Linked DNA regions of Homo sapiens. The protein of the gene in region 4 interacts with the protein of the main gene of each other region in a pairwise test. Each region holds a gene or a part of one and is shown on either strand. Other genes may lie near its edges.

The links.
Region 1: the proteins of UBAP2 (region 4) and TRAPPC6A interact in binary tests that used the Homo sapiens proteins (3 or more experiments, as listed by UniProt).
Region 2: the proteins of UBAP2 (region 4) and NPAS2 interact in binary tests that used the Homo sapiens proteins (3 or more experiments, as listed by UniProt).
Region 3: the proteins of UBAP2 (region 4) and ISX interact in binary tests that used the Homo sapiens proteins (3 or more experiments, as listed by UniProt).

Annotation. Positions count from the first base shown.
Region 1 is NC_000019.10:45,162,417-45,168,260, forward strand, and holds the end of TRAPPC6A (trafficking protein particle complex subunit 6A), read right to left. Parts: intron 2,779-5,844; coding exon 2,711-2,778; intron 2,555-2,710; coding exon 2,437-2,554; intron 1,832-2,436; coding exon 1,748-1,831; intron 1,594-1,747; coding exon 1,500-1,593; exon of another isoform or gene 1,494-1,499; intron 808-1,493; coding exon 776-807; 3' UTR 517-775; downstream 1-516. UniProt on the Homo sapiens protein: May play a role in vesicular transport during the biogenesis of melanosomes.
Region 2 is NC_000002.12:100,816,109-100,823,138, reverse strand, and holds the start of NPAS2 (neuronal PAS domain-containing protein 2), read right to left. Parts: upstream 3,001-7,030; 5' UTR 2,725-3,000; intron 1,985-2,724; exon of another isoform or gene 1,940-1,984; intron 1-1,939. UniProt on the Homo sapiens protein: Transcriptional activator which forms a core component of the circadian clock.
Region 3 is NC_000022.11:35,061,530-35,069,178, forward strand, and holds the start of ISX (intestine-specific homeobox), read left to right. Parts: upstream 1-4,628; 5' UTR 4,629-4,933; exon of another isoform or gene 4,934-5,222; 5' UTR 5,223-5,558; coding exon 5,559-5,787; intron 5,788-7,649. UniProt on the Homo sapiens protein: Transcription factor that regulates gene expression in intestine. May participate in vitamin A metabolism most likely by regulating BCO1 expression in the intestine.
Region 4 is NC_000009.12:33,921,193-33,926,926, forward strand, and holds the end of UBAP2 (ubiquitin-associated protein 2), read right to left. Parts: intron 5,473-5,734; coding exon 5,425-5,472; intron 3,093-5,424; coding exon 3,014-3,092; intron 2,809-3,013; coding exon 2,603-2,808; intron 2,287-2,602; coding exon 2,187-2,286; intron 2,102-2,186; coding exon 1,994-2,101; intron 1,842-1,993; coding exon 1,774-1,841; intron 1,687-1,773; coding exon 1,495-1,686; intron 1,408-1,494; coding exon 1,312-1,407; 3' UTR 501-1,311; downstream 1-500. UniProt on the Homo sapiens protein: Recruits the ubiquitination machinery to RNA polymerase II for polyubiquitination, removal and degradation, when the transcription-coupled nucleotide excision repair (TC-NER) machinery fails to resolve DNA damage. May promote the degradation of ANXA2.

The DNA.
Region 1 (5,844 bases), on a different chromosome or scaffold from region 4:
GTGGGCAGCTCTGAGCCTGGGGCACTTACCCATGTCAGGCAGCGGGCGGCGAAGCCCAGGAGTCCCCAGATGCTACAGATGCGAGCGGGGTGGGAGGGGGCAGCATAAGGGCCACTCTGCCCAGGGACGGGCAGCAGGAGTGCGTAGGGGCCGCGTGTGTCCATGGGGGTGTCTGGCCTCCCCCTACCCCATGCATCCCCAGCCCTGGCAGCCCCAGCCCGACCTGGCCTACACTCCGGGCACTCCCAGCCCTGCTCCCCAGGAAGACGCTCCGTTCTGTGCACATCGCCGGGCAGAGGGCAGCCCCAGACTTGTTGACTTGGCAGAGGTGCCAGTAAGGCCGCCCATGCCGGAGGCCAGCATCCCTCTGCCAGGAGCACGGGGAGGGAGGGAGTGGAGGGGGACGTGGCAGGGGAGGGAAGGTCTGAGGGGCATGGGAGCCAGAGAGGGTACCCACTCCCCTGCAGGACCTGTGACAGTCGGTCCACAGATCCTCCCCCACTGCTCTGAGTCAGATTCCACACACACAGCCTTTATTGAGCAGCTACTGGGCAGTGACGCTGCCGAGGCGGGAATCCCACCACAGTCCTGACCGCAGCTGGGACCCCTTTGCCTCCTCTGACACCCCCACCTCAATTTGATACCCACTTCCTGAGCAAATGTGACCCCTAGGGCCTGGGATTCCCAAGACCACCCCGAAATGCAGCGGCCCCACCGTCTCCTGAGGCCGGTGAGGCCAGGGGCAGCAGTGCGGCTCAGCAGGTGCGAGGCAGGCTTAGGATTTCGGAATCACCACCTGGAACTTACCTGGAAGAGAAGGCCTGGCTTAGGCTTGAGGATGGGATGGGGGAGGCAGAGGGCACCTGGACGGCTCTTAGGCGCTCACCCCCGTCCTGCACTGACACCCCAGTGGCTAGGTTGGGCTGTTTCCTCCCGCCCACGGGGCCGCATCCCTGAGCTGTGTGAGTAACCAGGAGCATGAGGGCCACGGATGTGGCCCCAGGGAAGCGCCCGGCACGGGCTTCTGTGGTATGCATTGCTCGGTCCTACCCCACGGGGGCCCCGGGGGCCCCCATGAGTGGGCCTGGGGAACCGGCAGAGGCAAAATAACTGAAGGTGGGGGAGGTGGTGGGGCAGGCTGTCCCCAGGCAGGAATGGGGCTCCAGCTTGTCTGACAGAGGACACCCAGTCAGGCAGGCTGCAAGTTCCCTGGAGCCTGCCGTCGCCCCCATCGAAGGATCAGTGAGGATAACTTCTATTGCGTCCACCTCGGCTCCCATGCTGGGAAACGATGTTCAAAACCGCCAGACAGTTCTCTCTGCAGGGCTGGCGACGTCACGGAGCCAGGGGCACAGATGGGCCTGCACCAGCCGTGTGGCTGAGCAGGTGACTTAAAACTGGGCCTGCCTCCCAGGCACACACACAGGAGTGGGGCTGGAACTCTGAAGCCCCCAGCAACTCAAGGGATGAGAAGAATCCCCCCACCCCCCATGACTCACAGACGGGCAGGGCTGCCACGGAGGCGGTGACCACGCTCTCAATGCCCAGGGTATAGAGGGCGCCGCGCAGGAGGCCGCAGGTGAAGGCCAGGAACTGAGGAGGGAACACAGACCAGCATGGGAAGAGAGGGGAGGCCAGCACCCGAGGTCTGGGGCACCCCTTAGGCCTGGGGAAAGGCCTGATGTGGGATGGGGCTGGGTAAACAGGAGGAAGGGAGGTGTGGACAAGGCCCCAGCTCCCCCCATACCTTGGGTGCTTCCTCCAGATACTGCAGGCCAGAGGCCATCGGGAGGAGGAGGGGGAAGCTGTTGTCTTGCAGGACGTAGGTCCCCTGGGGGAGAGGAGAGGCTGGTGGGTGGGGTCGGGGCCTGTACATTTGAAGCGCAGGGAGGGTAAGCAGGAACCCAGGTCTTAGATTGGGCTGAGGTTGGGAAGGCCCCCTTCCTGAGAACCACTGGAGTCACAGCCTTGGCCTCCAGTGCTCTGGTAGGGCCCAGGGCTTCCAAACTTGGAGTGGGTGCCTGTGCCCTGGGGAGTGTGGGTCCTGCCCTCGCCTCCCAGGGTTGTGCAGAAAAGCTGGGGACCCGGCCCAGGAAGATGCAGAAGGGCAGGTACAGCCTGGGTGTCACTGGGGGACTAGACCAGCTTGGGACAAGCAGCATCACACTGGGGGTAGGGCAGGCAGCCACCAGGGGCTTTCTGCCCATGCATGGCTCACTCCTGGTAGGCTGGAGAAGTTCCGGAAACACCCCCTATGCCCCAGCGCAGCCTCCTGGCTTCCCTTAGAGGATCAGACAGAGCAAGAGCTGCGGCCGCCTGTGGGAAAGCTCTGGGCGGGTCCCGGCAGCCGCTGCTCTGGCGCCGGGGGATTCCCCTCCCACTCTCTTGGTCTTGCCCTCAGGAGGAAGCTGGACGGGCAGGCCGGGGTGCTCCCACCTGGTGATTGGTGCGCAGGCTGTCCATCTGCTTCTGGAACACCGCCACCCACAGGTCTTTGCACAAGAACTTGAGGACATCCAGCTCCTCCCTGAAGGCCAGCGTCTCCCGGGGCAGCCTGGTGGGGCAGTACCAAGCTGAGGCCGTGGGGCCAGGCCAGGAAGAGGGAGGAAGACAGGCCCGACTCCTGCATGGAGCAATGCAACCCTCCCCGCCCGGGGCCTGCCCAGCCCTGCCAGCCAGGCTGGGGGAGAGCAGGAGGGGCCGCGCTCACCTCTCGCCTAGAGCCTGGCCCACACGGAACCCCATACCCTCCAGGACCGACAGGCTCATCTTCTGTCCCTAGAAGGCCAGGGGAGAGATGCTCAGGGGCCCTTAGCCACCACGAACCCGGGGCCACCCAGGGGGGGACCTGCCAGGGGACCCAAAGACCAACTTGCTGGTGCTCGTCAGTTCAGGGGTGAGCAGGGAGGGGCTCTGGCACAGCCCGGCCAGGGCAGGGGCAGGCCTCTAGGGTGCTGGGGCTCCCTCACCCACCTCTGCAGACCTTGCAGGCTCTCTGGATCCCCAGATCATCAGCCCCCAAGAACCAGCTCCCCCTTCCCTCAGGAACAATGGGGGTCTTCCCCAGGCTCCCTTCCTCCTCCATGACTTTTCCTGATAACCCCCATGACAGGCTGCACGTGCTTTCAGCGCGAACCCTCACAATGCCCTGGGAAGTGGGCGCTGCGACTCCACCAAGATGCTCCAGGTGACCTGCCCAAGGGCTGGAGGCTGGGCCACAGGAAAGGGGGCTGTGGAAGTCAACCATGATCATCATGCCTTATAATATTGGCCAAGATCCCTGGGGAACACGTGGAAGCTCGGGACAGGCAGATCTTCGTTTGGGTGCTCGAAAAGGACAGTGGCTGCCATGTAGTGTCTGGAGGGTAGGCCAGGGTCCATACAGGAGGGGACTGTGCTGGCAGAGGCAGGCCCCAGGTAGGAGGGCTGCACTCGGTGTCTGTCCACGTGCCTGTGTGTGTGGAGGGCATGGCTGGAGGAGAGGAGATGCTCATGGATTTTTTTTTTTTTAAGAGATGGAGTCTAGCTTCATTGCCCAGGCTGGAATGCAGTGGCCCAATCTCTGACTCACTGCAACCTCCGCCTCCCGGGTTCTAGCAATTCTCCTGCCTCAGCCTCCAGAGTAGCTGGGACTACAGGGATACGCCACCACACCCTACTAATTTTTTGTATTTCATTAGAGACAGGGTTTCACTGTGTTGCCCAGGCTGGTCTCGAACTCCTCAGCTCAGGCAATCTGCCCGCCTCGGCCTTCCAAAGTGCTGGGATTACAGGCGTGAGCCACCGCGCCTGGCGAGTTTTCTTTTTTGGAGACAGAGTCTCACTCTGTTGCCTAGGTAGAGTGCAGTGGTGCAATGCTGGCTCACTGCAACCTCCGCCTCCCGGGTTCAAACAATTCTCCTGCCTCAGCCTCCCGAGTAGCTGGGATTACAGGCCTGTGTGCCACCACACCCGGCTAATTTTTGTATTTTTGGTAGAGATGGGGTTTCACCATGTTGGCCAGGCTGGTCTCAAACTCCTAGCCTCAAGTGATCCGCCCGCCTTGGCCTCCCAAAGTGCTGGGATTACAGGCAAAAGCCACTGCACCTGGCCATGGATCTTTTTTTTTTTTTTTTTCATTCGGGTGTTTTGCTGCAAGCAGAGGAAGGGAGGAGGCCCAGACTGGGGGGCACCAGAAATCCCAGGACGGCTGGGGCGTGAGGCGCCAGGTTTTTCAGAGAAAGCCTGGCAGAGCAGAAGTGGGGGAACAGAGGCGGCAGGTGTGCAGCCCTGAGCTGAAGGAAGCTCACCCTCCCGCTGGCTGCTCTCAGGAGCCTGCAGTCACCAGGCCTGAGCCCTGCAGCCCTCCCTCTCCTGCCCTTGACCCCCACCTTCCCTTGGGAATGGCAGCTACCGCCTCCTCCCTCCAGGGCTGCACCATCAGCGCAGCCATCCGAATGGGGATGCGAATTCTCTGCTTGGCTCCAGCCCTGGAGCGGGTCTCCCAGCCTGGAGAGCGTGTCCGAGGAAGGCTTCTTGCAGCCTGCGGGCCCAGCTGCCTCCATCCCTCCCTCACCCTCTCCTCTGCCCCCTGAGGACATTCGCTCAGACTTCTGAGCCTTTGTACCGACTTCCTTCCCTTCCTCCCTCCCAGCTTGCGTCCCCAGCCCTGCCCACTGCACACTGTCCCTGGATGAGGACACAGCTCTGTGAAGGTGGGGACCCAGGCTGACCAATTCACATCCGGCCTTCAGCAGCCAACACAGAGCTTGGCATGTGGGTGGTGCTTAACAGACTGGCTGATGAGACAACGTGCATCAACAAAGGACACCGTAAGTCCTTACCTAATGCTGTCAACAGGCTCTTGGAAACTATGGCTTTAAGCAAAATGACATATGATGAAACCAATTTCACGCAGGTTAATTAACATAAACAAGAGTGAAGTTCCAATGCCATATTTCTGGTACAAACACATCACCAAACTTCTAAATAAGGATGAAAACACTTGAAATATTAAACACTGAAATAAATGTGAGCTATACATACGTTTAAGAAAGATTAGGCCGGGCGCAGTGGCTCACTCCTGTAATTCCAGCACTTTGGGAGGTCGGAGTTTCGCTCTTGTTGCCCAGGCTGGAGTGCAACGGCGCGATCTCAGCTCACCACAACCTCTGCCTCCCGGGTTCAAGTGAATCTCCTGCCTCAGCCTCCCCAGTAGCTGGGATTACAGGCATGAGCCACCACGCCCGGTTAATTTTGTATTTTTAGTAGAGACAGGGTTTCTTCTCTTTTGGCCAGGCGGGTCTCGAACTCCCAACCTCAGGTGATCTGCCCACCTCGGCCTCCCAAAGTGCTGGGATTACAGGCGTGGGCCATCGCGCCCAGCTGAGTCCAGGAGTTCGAGTCCAGCCTGGTCGACATGGCGAAACCCCTTCTCTACAAAAAATACAAAAGTTAGCCAGGTGTGGTGGCATGCACCCGTGTCCCAGCTACTTGGGAAGCTGAGGCAGGAGGATCATCTGAGCCCAGGAGGTCGCTACTGCAGTGAGCCATGATCATGCCACTGTACTGCAGCCCAGGCAACAGCAAGACCCTGTCTTTTTTTTTTTTTTTTTTTTTTTTTTTGAGACAGAGTCTCGCCCTGTCGCCCAGGCTGGAGTGCAGTGGCGCAATCTCGGCTCACTGCAAGCTCCGCCTCCCGGGTTCACGCCATTCTCCTGCCTCAGCCTCCTGAGTAGCTGGCACTATAGGCACCCGCCACCACGCCCAGCTAATTTTTTTGTATTTTTAGCAGGGACGGGGTTTCACCATGTTAGCCAGGATGGTCTTGATCTCCTGACCTCGTGATTCACCCACCTCGGCCTC
Region 2 (7,030 bases), on a different chromosome or scaffold from region 4:
TTCTCACCTTTGGATAGTGACCACCAACAATTCAGCTCATTTCCCACACCTATTTACTGAGCATCTATTCTGAACAAGGCCCCATCGAGATGAGATGCTGTGGGGAATATGAAATGTGACAGTCCCTGACCTCCCATCTTTGCTACAAATAGAACGAGGATCAGGAACATGCTAATCAGACACTTCTGTAAGCAAATAATGCACCAAGTACCCTATCCACTATTTAAATGTGAAACTCAATTAGATGCTTGCTATGATGCAGCCAATTAAACCGTTGGCATAAAGCAGCCAAGAATACTGAGTCACTGGGCTATTTTCAACACCTCGAAATCTGACCTCTCTTGGGAAAGAGTTGCACCGTGCATGGAATCAGCATGGGACAGTGTCGTGATCACACTGGGAGAACCGACGATTCATGTAAAGAACAAAACACATGCTTGTTTTAAAAATTAAGAAAGAAGACTTAGCCCTTTGGGTTCTTAAGATTCAAAAGCAAGACTCTGAAAAAATGAACATATAAAGATGGTTAAATTAAAAAGTATACGCATGCCTTATTATTTTATTCTGAAAAAATTAACTTTCAGTTTTTAATCTAATAAGTTGCAGTGTTGAGTGAGCTATAAAGATTACCAAGAGTTAAGAAAGATTGTTCAAAAAAATAGGGTGAATTCAACTTAAACATGGCACACATCAGGTTATATGTGTTATCTTTAACGATTTTCATCATTTGCATTATTAAACAGCCAGAAATTTTTTTAAAGGGCCCAAACTGTTTTAAGAGAACCAAATGAGCTTAAAAACAATTGTTGTTTTCTACATAAAGATCAATTCTTTAGTCATCATCTGAACACTCTCTCATCAGACCACTAATTAGTAAAGCCTCACTTGGTTATTTTTGGCGTGGTTAACTCTTTGGGGGTAACGTTTTATTAATAACATATTTCCTCTAGAACGTATTTCCTTCTTTCACCTCCACAGGAGCCCCTCTGGGAAGCAGTGAGAATAAAACCGATTCTACATTTACGCACAGTGGGACAGATCAGCAAATAAATAGAGGCATCGATTTCCAAGAAGAAAACGGCTAAAAGCAGCGCATTTACAATTCTTCTAAGCCATACTCCACATCTCTCTGTGAGATGGAAGATAATTACTGAACGTCTTTACTTTGCACACTTTATTTTTAACTAAATATTTAAGTAGACTGCTGAGAGATACCAATACTTCTACTGGTCCTGGTTTAGCGCTGTAATGAAACACTGAATTTTTGCTTTTATAAAATAGTGGCGCAGGTCAGGATAACTCTTTTAAACATTACACTATTTATTTGGGGGTTATTTTTGGCTAACTTTTTCCTTTAAGGACATCTTAGTGGCAGGAAGATGGAGCTAGTGTGTGCGCTTGAATGTGAACAGTGCCTCCCAAGGAGGGCAGCTCTGTGTTTAATGCAAGCCATAATTAGTTGGTCAATTCACTGATGGGGACCAAGCTACAGTGAGAGAGAGATGCTGGCAGAGATGTCTTGCTGGGAACTACTTTAGAACTAATTACCTGGGAAGTTCAAACAGGAAAAACCTTTCTATTAAGGAAAATAAGGTTTGGGTTCTAAATGATCAAGACGGTTTAGCTCGTCTCTGCTGATTAAGTTAATTTAATAAGTGATCAATGTTTTACCTGTAGGAAAACAGGCTAACCACTTTAATGAAGTTGGGGTGGATGCCAAAGCAACGCGTAAAGACGAAACTCCTCTCCGGGACCCTCCTGAACACCTGTTGAACTCCAGGGCTTCTAACTTTCCGTACTAAAGCCTCCCGGACACAAGCTCGGGAGTGTTTAGACTTTGTGGAAGTGCGTGCGTATATTCAAGGTTTCCATCTTGCTTAATCAACAAAACTAGTTACTAATTATTTATGAATCACAGGGCTGAAACAAACTTTCTTACCTTGAGCAATTAAGGAGTGGCAAGCAGAGGAGCGGGACTGGTTCTGAATTTAGCCGGGTGGTGCCTGTCCCTTCCCTGGTTACCGACCTGCCCAGCTCTTCAGAAAGGTCAAAGGTGCGTCCCTCCTCGGCTGGGAAAGGGGCACATCTCCCAACAAAACCATACGCATACATCCAACCTGGGGAGCTCCGGAGTTGGGGTGGGGGGGCGGCAGCGACGTGAGGAGCCAGGCTGCACGCTGTCTGCGCACACGGGGGTTGGGGGCACCGATTCCGCACCCAATCCGGCCCGGAACCAATTCCGACCCAGGGACTCCGAGAGACCGCGGGCCCAGGGCGCGCACGCCGCACTCTCCGGGGGTCCAGGACGCCCGACGTTTCGGAGGGTAGCGCGATGGGTCTCGAAGACAACCACGGGCAATCCCCAAAGCTGTTGCCCTGGGGCACGATCCTTCTCCACCCTGTCGGACACCCCGAGGACCCCCAAATTCCGAGGCTCGGATGCCCAGTCCTCTGTCTTCTGCGTCGAGACGCGCCCGGAGCCCACCGGCCCAGCGATTGCTACCTCCTGCAGGACGCGAAGCCCCCAGCGGCCTGACTGTGGAGGGGAACCCACCTCTCCGCGCCCCCGCGTCCGGGGTCCCCGGTGCCGCGCAGCCTCGCGCCTGAGCGCCCCTCCGCCCCCGCGCGTCCTCCACGCTGGCGAGCAGGTGACCGAGTCCTGCGACCCCGCGCGCACGTACTACCCACCCTGGGTCCCCCGCGCCCCTAGGCGCGGCCCCTTACCTCGGAGCGGGCCGGAGCGGCCCCGCGGGGCCGGGCGCGGACTGGGCCGGGGAGACGCGCCTCCCGCCGCCGCTGGGAGACGAGGCGGCGAGCGGGCGCGGCGAGCTCCTCCCGGGCGGCGGCGGGAGGCGCTGCTCTAGCTGCTGCCGCCGCCGCCGCCGCCGCCGCGGCTGCGGGTCTCCGGGCTCCGCGGCCGCCGCTCCTGGGCCGCAGCCGCGCGGGTCCCTCGGCTCCTGCGAGAGGCCGGCTGCTCGCGCGGCAAACTCTTCCGCACGCAGAGCCGGCGGGGAGAGCCGCCTCCGCCTCTGCCTCCTCCCCTGCCTCCTCCCTCCACCCTCCTCCCTCTCCACCTCCCCCTCCTACCCCCACCCTCCTCCTCCTCCCCTCGCCTGCCTCCGCCTGCGGGGTCTCTCCTGGCCCCGACCCAGCCTGGGACAAGCACCCCGCGCGCGCCGCAGGCAGACGGACCCCCGGCCCCCTAGACCCCCGGCTTCCCTGGGCGGCGCAGACACCCGCGAGTCCCCAGGCCGCCGCAGCCTCTGCTGGGCTGCCAGGGACGCGCGGCGGGGTCGGGCCTGGGGCGCAGGGTCGGGGTTGGGCGCCGGGGCTGGGGGAGGGGGGGGTTGTGCTTCCAGGTGAGCCGGCCCAGAGGAGAGGCAAGTGGACTAGAGGCTGCCAGCCGAGGTCCCATTAAAGTTGTCACTCGGGGGGAACAAGGAATCTGCCGCCCCCGCCTAGTGTAGACCCTCGCAGTGCGGGCCGCCACCCTGCTGTCCCGCGCAGGGGATGAAGGGGGACGAGCACGCGACTGTCACCCCCTCCACACTGTCCTCCAGGGGCAGGGTTGCGCGCAGGTCTCGACCCAGGGCACAAAGCGCGTCTCTGCGGGGACCACTGCGATTTCTCAATGAGCGGCGGGGGTGCGGCCCGGGGGCAGGTGGGAGGCGGGGGTCGGGGAAGATGCGGGCGAGCGGTGGTCGGCGGAGGACAGCAGCGACTGCTGGGGAGGAATAACCAGTGCCTGTCCTAAGGCGAACGTAGCTGGTCCGGAAAATGGGTCAAGGATGGAAAGGAACCGGCTAATTGCCCCCCTCCCCGGCAGGGGCACGTGGGGTGTGGGGCTGCGGCCAGGAGCGGGCACTTGGAGCTCCACTCTGCCTCTCCCTCCCCTCCTCCGCTGCCCTCCTCTCCTTTTGCACCAGTGCAGGAAATGTTCCACTGACCTACATATTTTTCCAAACATACGTGACCTTTTTTTTTTTTTCCTCTGTGGGAGGAGACAGGCGAGAATCCAAGAAAAAGAAGCTGGAGAGAGAGGCGCGCGCGAGAAACAGGGAGGATTTTACCAAGGTTCCCGCAAACGCCAAGCGGAGGGAGGCAGAGGTACAGGAATAATCCCCGGGTGCCGGGGCTGCTGTCTGATGCCCTTCGGGGCTCCAAGACAGAGCCGGTGAAAACCGGAGACCGTGTGCCCCGCCGAGGTCCGGAAACGTGGCCGGTTTCCCCTTCACCTGGGCGGCGGCGTTCACAGCGGGGAGGCGCCTGGGTGGAAGCCCGGGAGAGGGGAAAGGTCCCCCTGCCCGCTCCCACGAGGTCTCCGCTCCCCTGGCCTAGGTGCCTGGCCTGGCGCAGCGCTCCGAGCGTGGCAGCCTTTTCCGGACGTCTCTCCGTCCCTCTTACATTCCGGCAAGTGGCCCTGGAAGGAAAGCGCCCCCGCTGGCCCTTTTCTGTCATACTCGATTTTGTGGCCAGAAGGGGTCTCCTAGGGCCTTTGCCCCAAGCGCGCCAGGCCCCCGCGGTGGACTGGGGGTCGCCCCGGACGCTGTTCCTCTCGCTGTCTCGTCCTCTCCCTCGAGTTTGAGACGTGCCCTCTCCCTCGCAGATCCGACCAGCAGCGCCTTATTTGGGCATGCAACCCCACACCGTCAATTAGATCAAAACGCTCACACAGAGCTCCTTTTTACCCCCCCTGTAAAGTAGGTCATTCTCTTTATTTCCCACTTGTATTATTTGTGTCTAATTCTCCTCCTGAAAAATAATCAGCTGCAAGGAGCTTTGAGCATCCTAAGAGCAGCTGTTATTCTCAGGCTTGCTTCTGACTTGGAGGGCTTTTCAAGAAAGAGGAGGAGGCATTTGGCCTGTCATGATTTTGAAGTCCCTCCCTTTCCAAAAGAAGAAACTTTTGTTTGATGGATTTTATTTTGCTTTGTTTTTCTACCCCGTCCTTTTCCTCCAGGCAAGTAGGTTTCACCCCGCCTTTAGAGCGTGGCCATGACTAATATTACTAAAGGATGAAATTGTGTACTTCTAACCGGTTTTAAAGCATTATTTAAAGTCACCTCCCTTCCTTTTTTGCTTTGGAAGAGATTCCAACTCCCTTTTCCTACTCCCTTTTGGGAACTTGTTGAACAATCATTAAATTTTCTTTTAGGAAACCTGGAATGTCCTGTAGTAGTAACTCATCAAATAATTCTGCAGTACAAAAAGTGTTTTTGCTGTGGTCTCTTTTTCTCTGTTGTCCAGTAGATGCCCCTACTAAATGTGGTTTCTGCCTTTTTAGTCCTGGAGATGACGTGTATGTGGTTGTCGTATTTATTCCAAACTCCATCCCGTGTCCTAATGTTAATCTCACCCAGATGGGAAGGATACCTCTAAGATAGGCCACATATCCTATCTGACCATAAGGCAGAGTGGATTCTGCATCACAGAAGCCAGTTAGACTAGGCCCTTTCCCCCACATGCGGAAGAGAGCTACGGAGGAGAGTTGACCCCATGTTCATTCTATGCATTTGACGGTTGAGTTCCTTTTACTGACATCTGTTGAAGGCTTGCCATGAGTCAGGCTGGGCTTGGCCTGTGAGGGATCAAGGGAACATTAAGGCAGTTTCTATACACAAAGGGTTTACTATGTTGAGGCAGGCATAAACACCAGCCAAATAGGGCTAGGGTCAGAAAAGCCCTCCAAGCCAAAAGCAGATGTCCCATGGGTGCCGAGGAAGGACTCAGGATGAGCTTCTTGGAAGAGGTGACATTGGTGCTTGGATTTTTCGTTAACCAAATAACAAAGCCAAGCTACAATAGATCATCTATGCATTGTTCAAAATGTGCAGCATGGAGCAAAAGAGCCATTTCAAAACTGCATTGCCAGTTTTGGGACATTCTCACTGAGTTCCAGTCATTGGGCCTTTAAAAGAACATGGCTTTACTGATTGAATGTTGCCTTGATGTATTCAGGAACTCCAGATATTTTTCAAAGAATCCAAATGTATGGAAGGGAGGATAAAAAAATTTTTGCAGTCAATTTTATCAGTCTTTAGAGGTATCGGTGAAATAATTCAAAGTTCTCACAGTCAAATTGGATATTCTTTTCCATCATAGAAGTTGAATCTGTGGCATATCCTCATTTTAAATATGCACACATTAAATTTTCAAAATATGTATTGGGTGACTATGGGTGTTCATTCGTGGTATTACACAAGGGCAAGAATGTGTGGGCTGCTATACGAATTACAGCACTAGCCCAGGGCTTGGGACTCTTGTTGGATGTATACATTCAATGACTTCAGCATAAGCTTTGGAACAGACAATAAGAACAGGGTTCCATGCCAGATGTTAGCACAGTTTTTCTAGTTAATCACAAGGTGGGAAGGCCCTCTTTCTTCATGTGAATGTCCAGAAGCCCATTTGTGGATTCTTACCTCTGATTATCAGTTTTCACTTCAAAACTCAAAAGAAAAAACACAATACCACGCATCATTGGATAGAATAACATTATGCTAGAGAAGAAAATTGTAGCAACCAAGGCAAAGGGAAGTTGGGTCAGTATAAACGTGAAGAAGAGGCTTTAGAACCCAATAATTGGAGACTGACTCAGAGGCCAGGGCTTATGAAGAGTACCTTTGAAAGCAAGACTGAGGAACGCCTATCATGTGTTTCAAATATCAAGATTAGGCCGTGACAGTGGCTCATGTCTAATCCCCAGCACTTTGGGAGGCTGAGGTGGGCAAATTGCTTGAGCTCAGAAGTTCGAGACCAGCCTGGGCAACATGGTGAAACTCCGTCTCTCAAAAAAAAAAAAAAATTAATTAATTAATTAAAAAAAGAAACAATATCAAGGTTAGCACCTTGATGTGCTGTTTCTGCATAAGCTTCATAGAATAGAAGAGCGCAGGAGGCAGCAGGCTCTCGCCCTCCCGCCTGGGCCAGAGGATGCTACCAGGAGACAATCAAGGCCTTGTACAGCCTGCCTGGTAGGGTTAAGACTTAACTTGGTTTTTGTGCCTATTAGATCATGTGGTTGGCAAAC
Region 3 (7,649 bases), on a different chromosome or scaffold from region 4:
GCACTGGGGATGACAGAGAAGAAAGATGGAAGTGCTTAGTTCTTCACATTGTTTTCATGCCTGAACTAAGCCACTCTGCATCCTCCTACCTACACACGTGATTATGTGAATTAACAAACCCCCATTGTTTAAGCCTCTTCAAGTTGGGTATTTGATCACTTGCAGCCAAGATCATTCTGATCCACACTCCCTCCCATACTCAAACACACACAGCCTATAACTTGCCTCCACTTTACTTGGGTTCCCAATGACTCCTTAACTTGTAGTTTGGTTGATGGTAGAGCCATCACTCACAAAAATGCCCATGGCTCTTTTACTGCCTGTGGGATAAAATTCATATCTGGAAAAATCCAAGTGTGTTCTCTCACCTGGCCTCTCTCTAGCTTATTATTTTGTTTTACTTATAACATTGTCACTACAAAAGTAAATTAAAGTGGAGAATACCTGAGCAGACAAAGCCAGTTAGGCCTCATAAGTGACCTTATCATTGCTTGATTTACAAACACAAGCAAAACTAAACTTAAGCTATTTCTTGTGAATGCCTATATTAATGAAAAACAGAACCGAAGTCCAACCAAAAAGAAGCCACCAACAAACTTACATAACTAGGGACTTTTCAATGGAATAGATGAAATAAGGCAACTTTATAACTGTAACCAATCAAATATTTTCCTTGTATCACTTCTTCATCTCTCTATAAAAGCCTGTGTCTTCAACAGACCTCCTGAACCACTTCCGCTTTGGAGCTGCCTGATTCATGAATTGCTATTTGTTCAAATAAACACTTTAAAATTGTATTGCGCCGCAGTTTATTTTTCAACATCACAAATGGAAATTACATTGGGCATTTATGTGCTATCAATTTATTATCTGTTTATTATCTATTTTCAATGTAAGTTCCATGAGAATATAGACCTTGCCTCTTTTAACCACAACTGTCTCCTTAGCATAAAGATCATGGTCTAGCACATCACAGTGGATGCTTCAAAATTATGTTATGGATGCATAAATGATTGGAGGCCGCAATCCACCTTTCCCACATGCTCTTCCTAAATACTTCTTCATAAAATGAAACCCCTCTCTCATCCATGAAACCGGTAACAGTGCATCATTGTATTAGTCGGTTCTCACATTGCTATAAGGAACTACCTGAGACTGGGTAATTTGTGAAGAAAAGAAGTTTAATTGACTCACAGTTCCACATACTGTACAGGAAGCATGGTTGGGGAGGCCTCAGGAAACTTACAATCATGGCAGAAGGCAAAGTGGAAGCAGGCACATCTTCACATTGCAGAGCAGGAGAGAGAGAGAGAAGGGGGAGGTGCTACACACAGACAGATCTCATAGAACTCTCTCACAATACAGCACTAGGGGGACGGTGTTAAACCATTAGAAAATACCCCCATGATCTAATCACCTCCCACCAGGCCCCACCTCCAATCCTCCAACATTGGGAATTACAGTTCAATATGAGATTTGGGGGTGGAAGTGGCAGAGGCAAAAAGAGAGAGGCGATGGAGCCCTTTCTCTCTGCTGGGCCTCGTGCCTGCAGCTGTGTGCTCACCGTTTCACTTAATCCATTCAACAGCCTGATCAATTAGGTGTCATTAATGCCATTTAACAGCTGAGGAGACATGCCCAGAGAAGTGGAGTGATAGGACAGCTAGCCACTAGAAGCAGCAAGATTCAAACCCAGGTGAGTCTGGCTCTGCACCTCACATCCCTCCCACTTTGCTGTAATACCCAGAGACCATCTGGCTCAGCCCTCTCATTTCACAGGTGAAGAACTGAGCAGCAGCGAGAGAAATTGCCAGAGTTACACCTGTTGTTTTCAGCACCTTGTTTGATTTCCTTTCATTTTGCCTCTTTCCAAGGTGTGACTGGCCCCTGGACAGGTTAACAGATCCAAACCATATCAACCATGCATGCCTCAATGTGTCCCTGCTCCAAGTCTTTGTTCCTACAGTTATCACCACATGACCTACTCATTCTTTGGTGCCCAGTTCAAATTCTGCTTCTGAGAGTCAGTAGGGGACACTAGAAAGATCAAGGTAATTGACTCAGCATGGAACACTAGCTGTGCCACTACATAGCTGTGGGACCCTGGGCACATTACTTAAAGCCTCTGAAGCTTAGTTGCTTCACTGTAAAACAGGGCTAAGATATCTACCTTAGCAGAGTTTATTTGCTTGTGAGTTTTACAGTAGATTCAATAAGACAATTCAGAAAAGGGACTTATATATGATGGCCCCTCTCCTTCCTTTGTTGTTCCTCCTCTTCAAAACTTTCATTAATCCAACAGCCACTCAATCTCTGACTTCTCTGACCACCCACAAGATTCCATCACGGACCATTGATACTTCCTGCCTTGTGTCACTGTACGTCTGCAGCCATGTCCCCCTTCCTCCCACCCCACCCCACCCCCACCCCAGAATGTAAGTCCCTCAGGGCAGGGGCCATATCTCTTTCATCTACATCTCCAGAGTGTTTGGCACATAGTAGATGCTCAAGAAATATTCATGGAATGAGCATACATGTGAGTGATAAAAGAATTGAAGTCAGTAACGTCAGGATTATGGCTAATCATGGGAGAGAGGGGAGTAAGCGTCCGGGTCCACACCACAGAAGGGTGTTCTGTTAACCTGTCCAGGGGCCAGTCACACCTTGGAAAGAGGCAAAATGAAAGGAAATCAAACAAGGTGCTGAAAACAACAGGTGTAACTCTGGCAATTTCTCTCGCTGCTGCTCAGTTCTTCACCTGTGAAATGAGAGGGCTGAGCCAGATGGTCTCTGGGTATTACAGCAAAGTGGGAGGGATGTGAGGTGCAGAGCCAGACTCACCTGAGTTTGAATCTTGCTGCTTCTAGTGGCTAGCTGTCCTATCACTCCACTTCTCTGGGCATGTCTCCTCAGCTGTTAAATGGCATTAATGACACCTAATTGATCAGGCTGTTGAATGGATTAAGTGAAACGGTGAGCACACAGCTGCAGGCACGAGGTCCAGCAGAGAGAAAGGGCTCCATCGCCTCTCTCTTTTTGCCTCTGCCACTTCCACCCCCAAAGATCCTGTCCTTGCTCTTGACCAAGCATCTCAAGTACCCATCAGAGCTTCCTCTGCCCTGAGTGTAAGGAACCTTGTCCTCTCATCCAACAACCCCTTCCATGGACCAATGGTGGGCCTGACTTCTAGGGGACTCTGGCCTCTTCACTGCAAAAGTCAACAAACTGGTTCATTTGTCTCCTGGCAGGAAAACTCCCCTGTCCAGCCCTAGGAAAGGGATAGGTCTAAGCAGGGTCATGTGACTCCCTCTGGCCACAGAATGTGAGCAGAAGGTCTATCAACCACTTCCACTTCTGACTCATCAAAATTTCTCCTTTCAACAGAAAACCAAATACTGAATGTTCTCACTCATAGGTGGGAGTTGAACAATGAGAACACATGGACACAGGGAGGGGGAAAATACACACTGGGGCCAGTCAAGGGGTTGGGGGCAAGGGGAGGGAGAGCATTAGGACAAATACCTAATGCACGCAGGACTTAAACCTAGATGATGGGGTGATAGGTACAGCAAAGCACCAAGGCACATGTATACCTATGTAACAAACCTGCACATTCTGCACATGTATCCCAGAACTTAAAATTAAAAAAAAAAAATTCTCCTTTGCTGTCTCCCTTTCCCCAGAAAACTTGGAGCCTATGATTGGAGAATGGTGGCATCACTGTTTGAAAGGAATCTGGGTCCCTAAATGACTACATTAGAATGTGATGTGGGTGAGCTATTATGCTCCCAAGACTATAGGGTTTACTTGCTACTACAGCAGAGCCTATTCCCCCCCTAACTAAATCAGACAGCCTGACACTTCCAAGGGGCACAGCTCCTAAAATGGGGCATCTTTACCTGTTCCCTCTCTCAGGGTGAGTCCCTCTCTCTCCTGACTCACTCTTCTCAGGGAGTGGAGACCAACGTTCCCTATCCTTCACCTCCCACCCCTGCCCTCTATGAGAAGATCTAGATTCTAACATCCAAATTTACATTCACAGTCTCTGCCAGGGTATCCATCCCTCCTGTGCAAATTGGCTCCTTGTGGCCAGCATGGCATCATGGACATCCCCAGGGGAGTACTGTGATCAGGCCCTGCCATCACATTTTCTGTACCTCCTTGGTCTGGACCTCAGTTTCCCCATATCAGAAAGCCCTGGAATGCTTTTCCTGATCTGATATTTGCAAGCCATGGAAAGCACATCTGAGAGCAAATGAATGCCTAAGGCTGACAGCCAGCAGACTGCACCTCAGCCCAGCCTCCCCCACACATGACCACAGGCTCTCCTGGCTGAGTAAACATGTTTTATTGGGCCTGGGTACACTTCCTGGCCATTCTGCTCCCACCTTCCCTTCCCCTGCTCTGGCCAGTTCCCCAGCACAGCCCCTCCCTGGGGCCTCCAATACCTGTCCTTCAGATCCCCACTGCCTCCTGCCACTTTTCTACCCTGACACCTGCATCCCCAGCCTTAAGGGGCGTGGAGAGTTTTTCTCTTATCAGCCTGTTTTACTGCCCCCTCCTCCTTGGTTACACAGTAATTTGGAGCAAAATTCCAGGCAAGGACAGATCAACAACTGTCAGCTCCCAGTCAGAGAGAAAGGGCCTCTTCAGTCTGTCTCAGGAGACTGGGAGAAACAGCATAAAGGACCCCACAAGGAAGGGAGAGGTACCCTGGGTCAGGCGCTTGTGGAGAGAGGGCTTCGCATGTAAAGTGACGTCAGGGAAAATAGAACAGAAAAAAAGCCAGGGCCAGCCCAGAGGCACCTGAGAAGAATCAGACCCACAGCTCAGCCCAGCCCTGGCACAGAGAAGAGACAGGCCTGGCAGCACCCAGGGACCCCCTTTCCTCAGCCTCCACCTGCAGGACAGCAGGAGCACTGATGCGCTGAAGGTACGTTCTGGAGTCTGGAAGCAGCAGAACTGAAGGAAGTAAACACGGGTGTCTGGGAAGACCCCTCAAGCTGCAGTAAAGCCCAGGACTGAATTGGCCACCTGAGGCCAAGGGTGGCACTCCAACCTCCTCCTAAAGGCTGGCTAGAGCCACAGGAAAGGGCCAGAAGCCAGAGAAAGGGCAAAGGTGGACCCCTGCCTCCAAACCTCCTCTGGAGACTGACCTCCTCTTTCCTGTGCCTTATTGTTTCTCCCTCTTCTCTTTGTTCGCCACTGGGCGGTGACCTCAGGGATCCTGGCCTAACCTGGTGATTGTGCAGGCAACTGTGTCCGAGAAGACCCTTCTCTGGAAGATTGAACCCCAATTCAGCCATGGTGACTCCTTTGATGTCAAACTGGTAAGGGCTGAGCCGTGGGCACAGGATACCACTCCTTCCAGCTCTTCTGCTGTGACCTGCCCATGGAAGTCCCTGTGGACACGAAATCCTGTTTGGATCATCTAACTGGAGGCTCTCTGTTCTTCACCTCCACGCGCCCTCTTGACCCCAGGAGGTTCAGGGGAGGAAGTACGCCACTCTCCACTGGCACCCTCCTTGGCCTACACAGAGTCACCCCTGAGCCCCTCAATGTGTGCTGAGGTGGGCCCTGCTCTCTGCAGGGGTATGGAGAGAAATAGCTTGGGGTGCTGTGAGGCCCCGAAGAAGCTGAGCCTGTCCTTCTCCATTGAGGCGATCCTAAAGAGGCCTGCCAGGAGGAGTGATATGGACAGACCAGAAGGGCCAGGTGAAGAGGGCCCCGGAGAAGCTGCGGCCTCAGGCTCTGGGCTAGAAAAGCCTCCAAAGGACCAGCCCCAGGGTAAGTGTCTTCTGATCATTTCTTTCTGTTTCCTGGTCTCCAAGACCCAGCTGGGCTCAGGCAGAGAAAAAGCTTCTCCGTCCATATTAACTGGATAGAGGACTCTAAAATTCAGAGCAAGACCTGGCTCTGGGCTGGTTTCCTGATATACCTTTCAATCTAACCCAAAACTGTGCTTTTCAGCTTCAGACACCAAGGCTCAGTTAGTTGCAGAATGCAGGGACCTGGGGCTTGTTATTGTAACCAGGCCCCGGCTAAGAATGCTAGTTACCATTTATTCAGCATTGACAATGTCATAGGCATTCTCTTTTAATTTCAGTAGAAAAGCATGATTATCATAACTGGACAGATAAGAAAACTCATCTGTGAAAGAGAAGAGGAGGATAATGTCCCCAAGTTACACAGCTGGTAAACAGAAGCCCCGCTATCAGGACCTGGCTCTGACTCCCCCAAATCCCTGCTGGGCCCAGCACAGTCTCCTCCTCATAAGCCAAGTTCAGTCTGCACAACTTCCAGGGGCTGAAGCTTTGCCCAGGGGCCGAAGCTTTGGCTTGGGAAAAGTCTGTCCACCCTGATCACCTTCCCCAAGCCAGTGGCCACCCCAAGGCATGTCCCCAGATAACAGTGACCAGGTAGATCGAGAGCTGGCTTGAGGAAGGGAGGAAAGCCGCACTGGGGCATTGGTGTGGACGCACACACCTGCTAACAGTCAGGAACCCAGGATGTGAGTCTTAGCTCTACCTTGGCCTGCTATGTGACCTCAGAAAAGTCCCTGTCCACTGCAGCCTCAGGTTTATTCTCAGCAAAACACCTGGGTGAAGGAATAAGAAATGGTGAAGCTGGCGATGTCTCAAGGGCCTTGTCAGTCTGACTGTCACTGAGCCTGGAATATCTCACATGAGGTTCTCAGTTCTCTCCCCTTTTCACCCCTTTTAATCCCAGAAAATGCTGGAAAGGAAGCTCAGGGAGCCCTTAATGTCATTACCTGCCATAAATAGAGCTCCACATCCCCACCAACGAGGCAAGTCTCCCATGGAGGGAGCTGATGAGGGGTCGCACTCAGCTGCAGGCATGAGGAAGACCAGGAGGGCTGTGTGTCTGCAGGCAGGAAGGAGCCTGGTGTGTTTCCCTATAGCTGAGTTTTCCAAAGGGAAAGGGTCTCTAGCTTAATTTTTGGAAGTTCATTAATATCTTCCAGTCCATTAAAGATTCATAGGAACATTTCCATTGGGGTCCTGAGTCTCTCCTCCTGCAGTTGTACAAATCTATGATCACCCTGTGTCATGAGAGAGAGGTCTCGCTTTTCCTACCAGAGAAGCTTCCCTTCCCCTAGCCCGATGACGGCAGGCTTCAGAAAGGAAACCACTCTTTCTAGGCCTCCACGGAAGATTCTGGCATGTTCCGTGTCAGCTATCCATCTGGTCCCAGAACAGACCCCAGTAAGTGCTGACCAGACTAGCGGTGGTGACATCGGATGGTGGTATATTCCTTCCACAGCACTTTTGTGGCCATTTTCCCATCTCACTGTCACACTTGGGAGCCCAACTTACAGATGATGAAACCAAGAAGAGAAGATAAATCCCCCACAAAAACTATGTGAGTAATGAGCACTAGAATTGAACCCTGGTGGCCTTAGACCATCTACTCTAGATTATTCCTGAACTTAGTTTAAATCCATCCGTCTCCCACTATGCTGGAATTCGGCATTTCTGAAAGCTTGGAGAGGGTCCCACTGGCGGCTCTCAAGATGACCTTGGTGGGTATGTAGATAAAGATGATCTAGCTCAATAGTCCTGTAATTACTTTTATACTAACCTTGTATTTATGATGAAAGACACTGTTATCTGTGTATGATCATGATA
Region 4 (5,734 bases):
ACCAGCCTACCTCATGACACCCTCACTAGTCACGTGTTCTACCATAGCTTTTGACTGCCAATCAAGATTATGTTCAGTTGATGACAAGCAAAAGACAGGTATACCTGTTCATACTCTCCCTTAAGGCCTAGAACCCTGCTCTCAGTTCTTGGCTTTGCTTCAGATTGTAAAAGTCCACTGAGATTTGGAAAAGAAATTACCCTGCCCTGGTATCCAGTGGACAGGGCTCTGTGGGACACTGCCCTATCCCTAAGTCTCTTAAGGAGCTATAAGAAAAGCCAGGTTAACTTTGATCAACATGGCCTGGGCCCTGTAAGGAGGTTTAGCTGTCCTTACAGCCATTGTGATTTGGGCCAAGAGGGTCCAGTAAAAAGGAAAACCATTTCAAGCCTTTATAGCCTGTGTCAGAAGACTATGACCATGTGGGATCTCCTTTAGCCCTGTGAAGTCCAGGGCTTCTGCCCTGAGCTGCCCTTCAGTCACACCACACAGAGACCATGCATGCTCTCAGAACTTTATTAGGTGGGGATTGGGCAAGAGAAAACCCCTGAAACAGTTGCCCACGTGGTTCAAGACAACTAGAATGGAGATGTGTTGCTTGGAGATACCTTAGATTTTTAAAGGGGAGCTGACTGGCTGAATAACTCAGATTATTTTTTTTTTTTTCATGGTCAGCCAGTCTCTAGTAAGTCTCTAGGGACATGACCAGACCAGAAGCCCCTGTTCTATATGAAGACAAACAGGTGGCCATACTTGGGTGGAGGGATACCGCTGCTATTCCCAGATGAAGATTTGGTGGAAGGAGACCATGACAGATGACAAACGGAACAGTTTCTCAAAAACAGAGGTATGAAGTAATTACACAGGAAAGAAAACAATTTCCAAAGGAGTGAGACAAGTCGTGATTCTTCATTGGTACCTGACCCCTATACCCAAACAGCCTTGAACCAGCCCTTCCAGAGACTGCCCCTAGTGGCCCACTGGGCAGTGCAGGCTGTGAAGAAGACCTGAAGGCAGATGGGGTGGGGGTGCTTATTTTGCTACAGTGGAGAAGGGGCTTGAATGGGGAGGGCAGACCTGGCTAACATCTGCCGCCATCCCCCAACTCCCCCCCAGACTTCTATCACATTTACAAATACATACATAAATACATTACATACAGTAGCCAGTCTGGGAGGCAGACTCCCCACAGAGGCATGGCTGACACATGTCGGGAATTCTAGGAAAGGGCACTGGGCTCCCAAATACGTGCTCGTGTGTTCTCTCCTGCCCAGGATAAGCCTTGCCCCAGCCCACCCCTCTCTTCTGGGTTTAGTTTGTCCAGTATGGAGAGTTGCCGTAGGCAGGTTTGGAGGCTTGAGACTTGGGCTGCAGGGAGCTGGGCTGGCTGCGCTGACCCGAGCCACTCTGAGGAAGAGGAGAAGGGAAGGCTGTCAAGGCTGGAGCAGAACCCCTGGCCCAGAGTAGGGTGGCTGCCTCCATCACTGTACTCACCTGTGCATCCTGCGGAAGGTGGTGGTGCAGCAGCTGTGAGTGGGGCTGCTGGTGGGCTGGCAAGATGTGTAGGAATGGTGGGGGTGCATAGCCAGGGGCCGCTCCCGAGGCCAGGGGCCCAGTGGAGCCCAAGACCGAGGGCAGGCTGAAAGGTGGAGGCGTCCCTGCATGAAATCCCTGCTTGTCAAAAGTCTACAGGGCAAAGAAGACAATGGTGAAGGTCAGGTTGGGCTGTAACCTCTCAAAAACCTATACACCCAACCCACCTTTGTCCCTCACCTGTGTCTTATTGTAGACAGAACCAGTCATATCAGGTAGACCAGTGGTGCTTGAAGACACTGATACTCCTAGGAGGAAAAGCAGTTGTTCCCCACAGCAGTTGTTCCCAGCTCCAGGCTCCCCACCTCCAGGATCACTCAGGGGTTGCCCTGCCTGAGAGGGGATCAGGCAGGAGCCCACCACTCCAGGCCTTATCCTGGAAAGGAGAGGTAAACACTACCTTTGCCAGGCCCAGAACCTGCAGACTTGTTTGGTGCCTGCGATGATCCAGCATAGCCACCTTTGGAGTAGTCTCCTGCTGCTGTCCCCTGGGTCAGGTCGTCATAACCTAGCGTGGCAGGGTACAAGAGGCAAGTGTGAGCCAGGCAAGCCTGTCTAACCCCATGTGTCTCTGTCTGGGAAGTACCCCTCACCTGTACTGTAGCCGTGCTGGCCATAACCACTGGCCTGCTGGAAGGGAGGTGTGGGAGTGCTGAGGTTCACCCCATGTTGCTTGGCTGAGGCTGGAGGGACCTGGGGGGGCAAGCAGATGAGGTATTAGTGTAGGAAGAGGCAAGCTGAGGCTGGTCAGGTACCCCTGCCAGAGCCTAAGGCAGCAGGTGACATACCCACAACCACAGGGGACCTGTGTTTTCATTAGTGCAACACATGCTGGATCTAAACACAGCAGGGGAAAAGTGACCTTGTCCCCAGCCTGAACAGTTTCTGAAGACCAGGTAAGACGGAGTGGAATCACAACCCTCCCTCCCTGCTGGAAGATAGGTCCCAGGTTTCCACCTGCCAGCAACCCAAGGCCAGGAGACACAGTCACACCCTCTGAAATACTCACAAACATGGTGGGGCCATACTGGAAGGCACTGGGCATGCCTGTGTAGTAGGGAAGACCAGTGTAGCTATAGCCAGGTGGCAGTGCAGGATTCACGAAGGGCTGCTGGGCTGTGTGGTGGGTCTGTGATTGGCTCTGCTGTGGCTGAGCTGGTGTGGTAGCGGGTGCAGGGGATGCAGAGTCCCCACGGCCAAACTTTGTGACATCACCTAGGAAAGAGCACTGACTCCAGCCACTGCCCTTCCTCCAACCAGAGAAAGGCCACACTGGCTTCTGCAAACAGGAACAGGTCTGGCTGCCAGCTCAGCACAGGCTACTAAGAGGCCTCTCTCAGCTTGCTGTTGCTGCTTCCCAGCTCCTGGAGTTCGCGCTAGGCCGGCCCCGGGCTACTCCTCATCCATTGAGCAAACTCACCTGGATATGGATTATTAGCTAGGCTCCCATCTCGGCTGGCAAGCGCTGTGGGTGCAGCAAAGGGAATTCCATAGTAGTCCTAGGAGAGACCAGGGAGGCTTGATCAGCGACTGGCCCTGCTTGACTCCCAGGAGAGCAGAACCAGCACATGGAAGTGGTGACGCCACACTCCTGAAACAGACTCCATGCCTGAGAGCCAGCAGTCCCAGGGAACGCCAAGTAAATGGTGCCCCTCGGAAGAGTGTGCAACTAGGCGGCCTGCCTAACACATAAGCACACAGACCGGCCAACCCTGCAGCTTCACCAGGCAGAGCTGCTGGAGACCAAGCCTCACACATCCATTTGACACCACAGGCAGGTGCTTGTGTGAATGCCTCGGGCTGAACCAACTTCGCTGGCTTTTCTGTGTGAGAGACTAGAGCAGCTAGGAAAGCTGACTAAACAGAGCAGACCTGAAAAAGGAGGCAACAGAAGTGCAGGGGCCTGAAAGGTTTAAGGGGGGACAGGGGGCAGTGCCAGGTAGGCACGGGAATAAGCAGGACCCCAGGTGAAGCCCAGAACTGGCCTGTCACCACCTACACTGCTCTCAAAACACTGACATGGCCTAGGACAAGCTTGTCCAACCCACGGCCCATGACAGCTTTGAATGTGGCCCAACACAAATTCGTCTTTCTTAAAACATGAAATTTGTTTGCAATTTTTTTAAGCTCATCAGCTATCTTTAATGTTAGTGTATTTTATGTGTGGCCCAAGACAATTATTCTTTCAATGTGGCCCAAGGAAGCCAAAACATTGGACACCCCTGGCCCAGGACTTGGGGGAAGTATGGCAGATACAACAAAGTGTGGAGACAGAGACGGCAAAGCACAGTGGAGCTTCGTGGAGGAGGGGAGGTCTGACCTGACCCTCACTCACCATCCAGGGCCTCGCACTCCTGGACACACCTGGCCCCTGAGGAAAGGCAAAGCCCTTGGGCTGTGCCCGATCCCAGAAAGGAGCCATCCTGGCTGGGAATGGCACTCACACCCTCCAGGAAACCTCCCGGAAACCCATAGCAGCCTAGAACCCCCGGAAGAGGCAGAGCTGGGAACACACAGAGCTGCACAACTGAGGACGGGAGCAGAGAAAGCCCAGAAGGGGGAGCACTTTCACAGAACACGAGAATTCTCCAGGCAGGAACTAGGCTCACAAGCAGCAGAGGTGAACAAACAACCCGAGGGATAGAAAGAGCAACATATCTCAAAAGGTGGGCTCCAGAGGGTGTTTTCTCTAAGGCACAAAGTGATAAAAGCCAAAAGAGTGCTGTGAATAAGTGTGGAGACCACGGAGAGCCCCTGAAGCAGAATGAATCCCGGGGCTCAGCACCACCTCCTGCAGTTTGGGCCTTTGGCCGGCAGATTAAAGGGCTGCTGGTTTGCACAGTGGGGAGAAGCCGCTCCGCTCCCAGGCTAGGCCTCTGCTTCTGGAAATACGGCCAGCCAGTGGAAAGGGCTACTCTTCTGAAACAAGAGCAGCTCCGTCAGCTCTTTGTGGTGCAGCAGAGAAGGGAGCAACACCCACGGGGAAGAAGGCATCACTGCACAAGGGAGAAAGCCTCTTCCTCCAGCAACAGGAAAGACTGTATCCAGCAGAGGTGGTGTCCAAACTGCCTGCAACTCTCTGACAAGTGCCCTGGGAAATGGCAGAGCAAGAAGACAGTGGCTCCCAGGAGGAAGTCCTGCCCATGGGCAGGGCAAGGAGCGGGCCTATTCCCCTCTGTCCCCACAGTTCTGTTCATGTGGCTATCCCAGGAAAGGCCCACACTGCATTCTGGCACCAACGGTCAGAAGAAAGAGGCAACCCTGGTCTCAGAGTAAGGCTGCAACCACCAGGGACGTCCCAGGGCAGGCATTCTCACAAATCTAGATGGGAGGCCAGACCCAGAAGAGACCTTAAAGACCATCAGCTCAAGCCACTCACTCAGCTGATTGCAGAAGAGCAGTCACTGGCCATCTCAGACCAAAGACACTATATGGTACTCTGAGGAAGAGGAAGACAGTATAAAACTCCAGGGCCACGTAAGCAACCTCCATGTCTTGTGTCATATGGTTTTTCTTTTTAAAAAAGAGAGAGAAAACAAGATGGAGGAGGGAAGATAAGGACCAACATTTAACAGGGGACATGGCCTACCAGGGCCCCAGGTCCCAAAGGCCTTCATGTTTCCCAGGGATGAGCACTGGATACTCTGTGCTAAAGCTATGGTCACGCCTGGCACAACCGCCAGATGAAAACAGCTTTCTCAGTAGTGGTGCTGAGAGGTTCCTCAGGCAGAGGATCCTAAGGGCCAGAGAGTGTGGCAGCCAAGACCATAAGAGGGGGGACATGTAAAAGATTCTGAACCCTCTGCTCCGACCAGTCCATACCCCACTCACCACTGGCAGCCGTGACTGCAGCATCTGGAGCTCGTCATAGCCATAGATCTGTGTGAGAACCAGAAAGTGTATTTTAGGAACCACATACCACACCCTGGGAAGCCCAGGTCCATCTAGGAGTCAAAACAAGGTTGGGGGGCTCTAACACACCCGGGAATGGGATCTGGATTAGCTGTTACGGGAACAGATCCTGCCTTCACGGAGTCTAGATGGAAGAAGACCACCAGGGCTCAGTGGGGCAGAGACGGGGGTGCTCAGGGATGGAAGGGCAGCTCAAGGTGGGCAACCTGGGCCCAACGCCAGGTTCCTG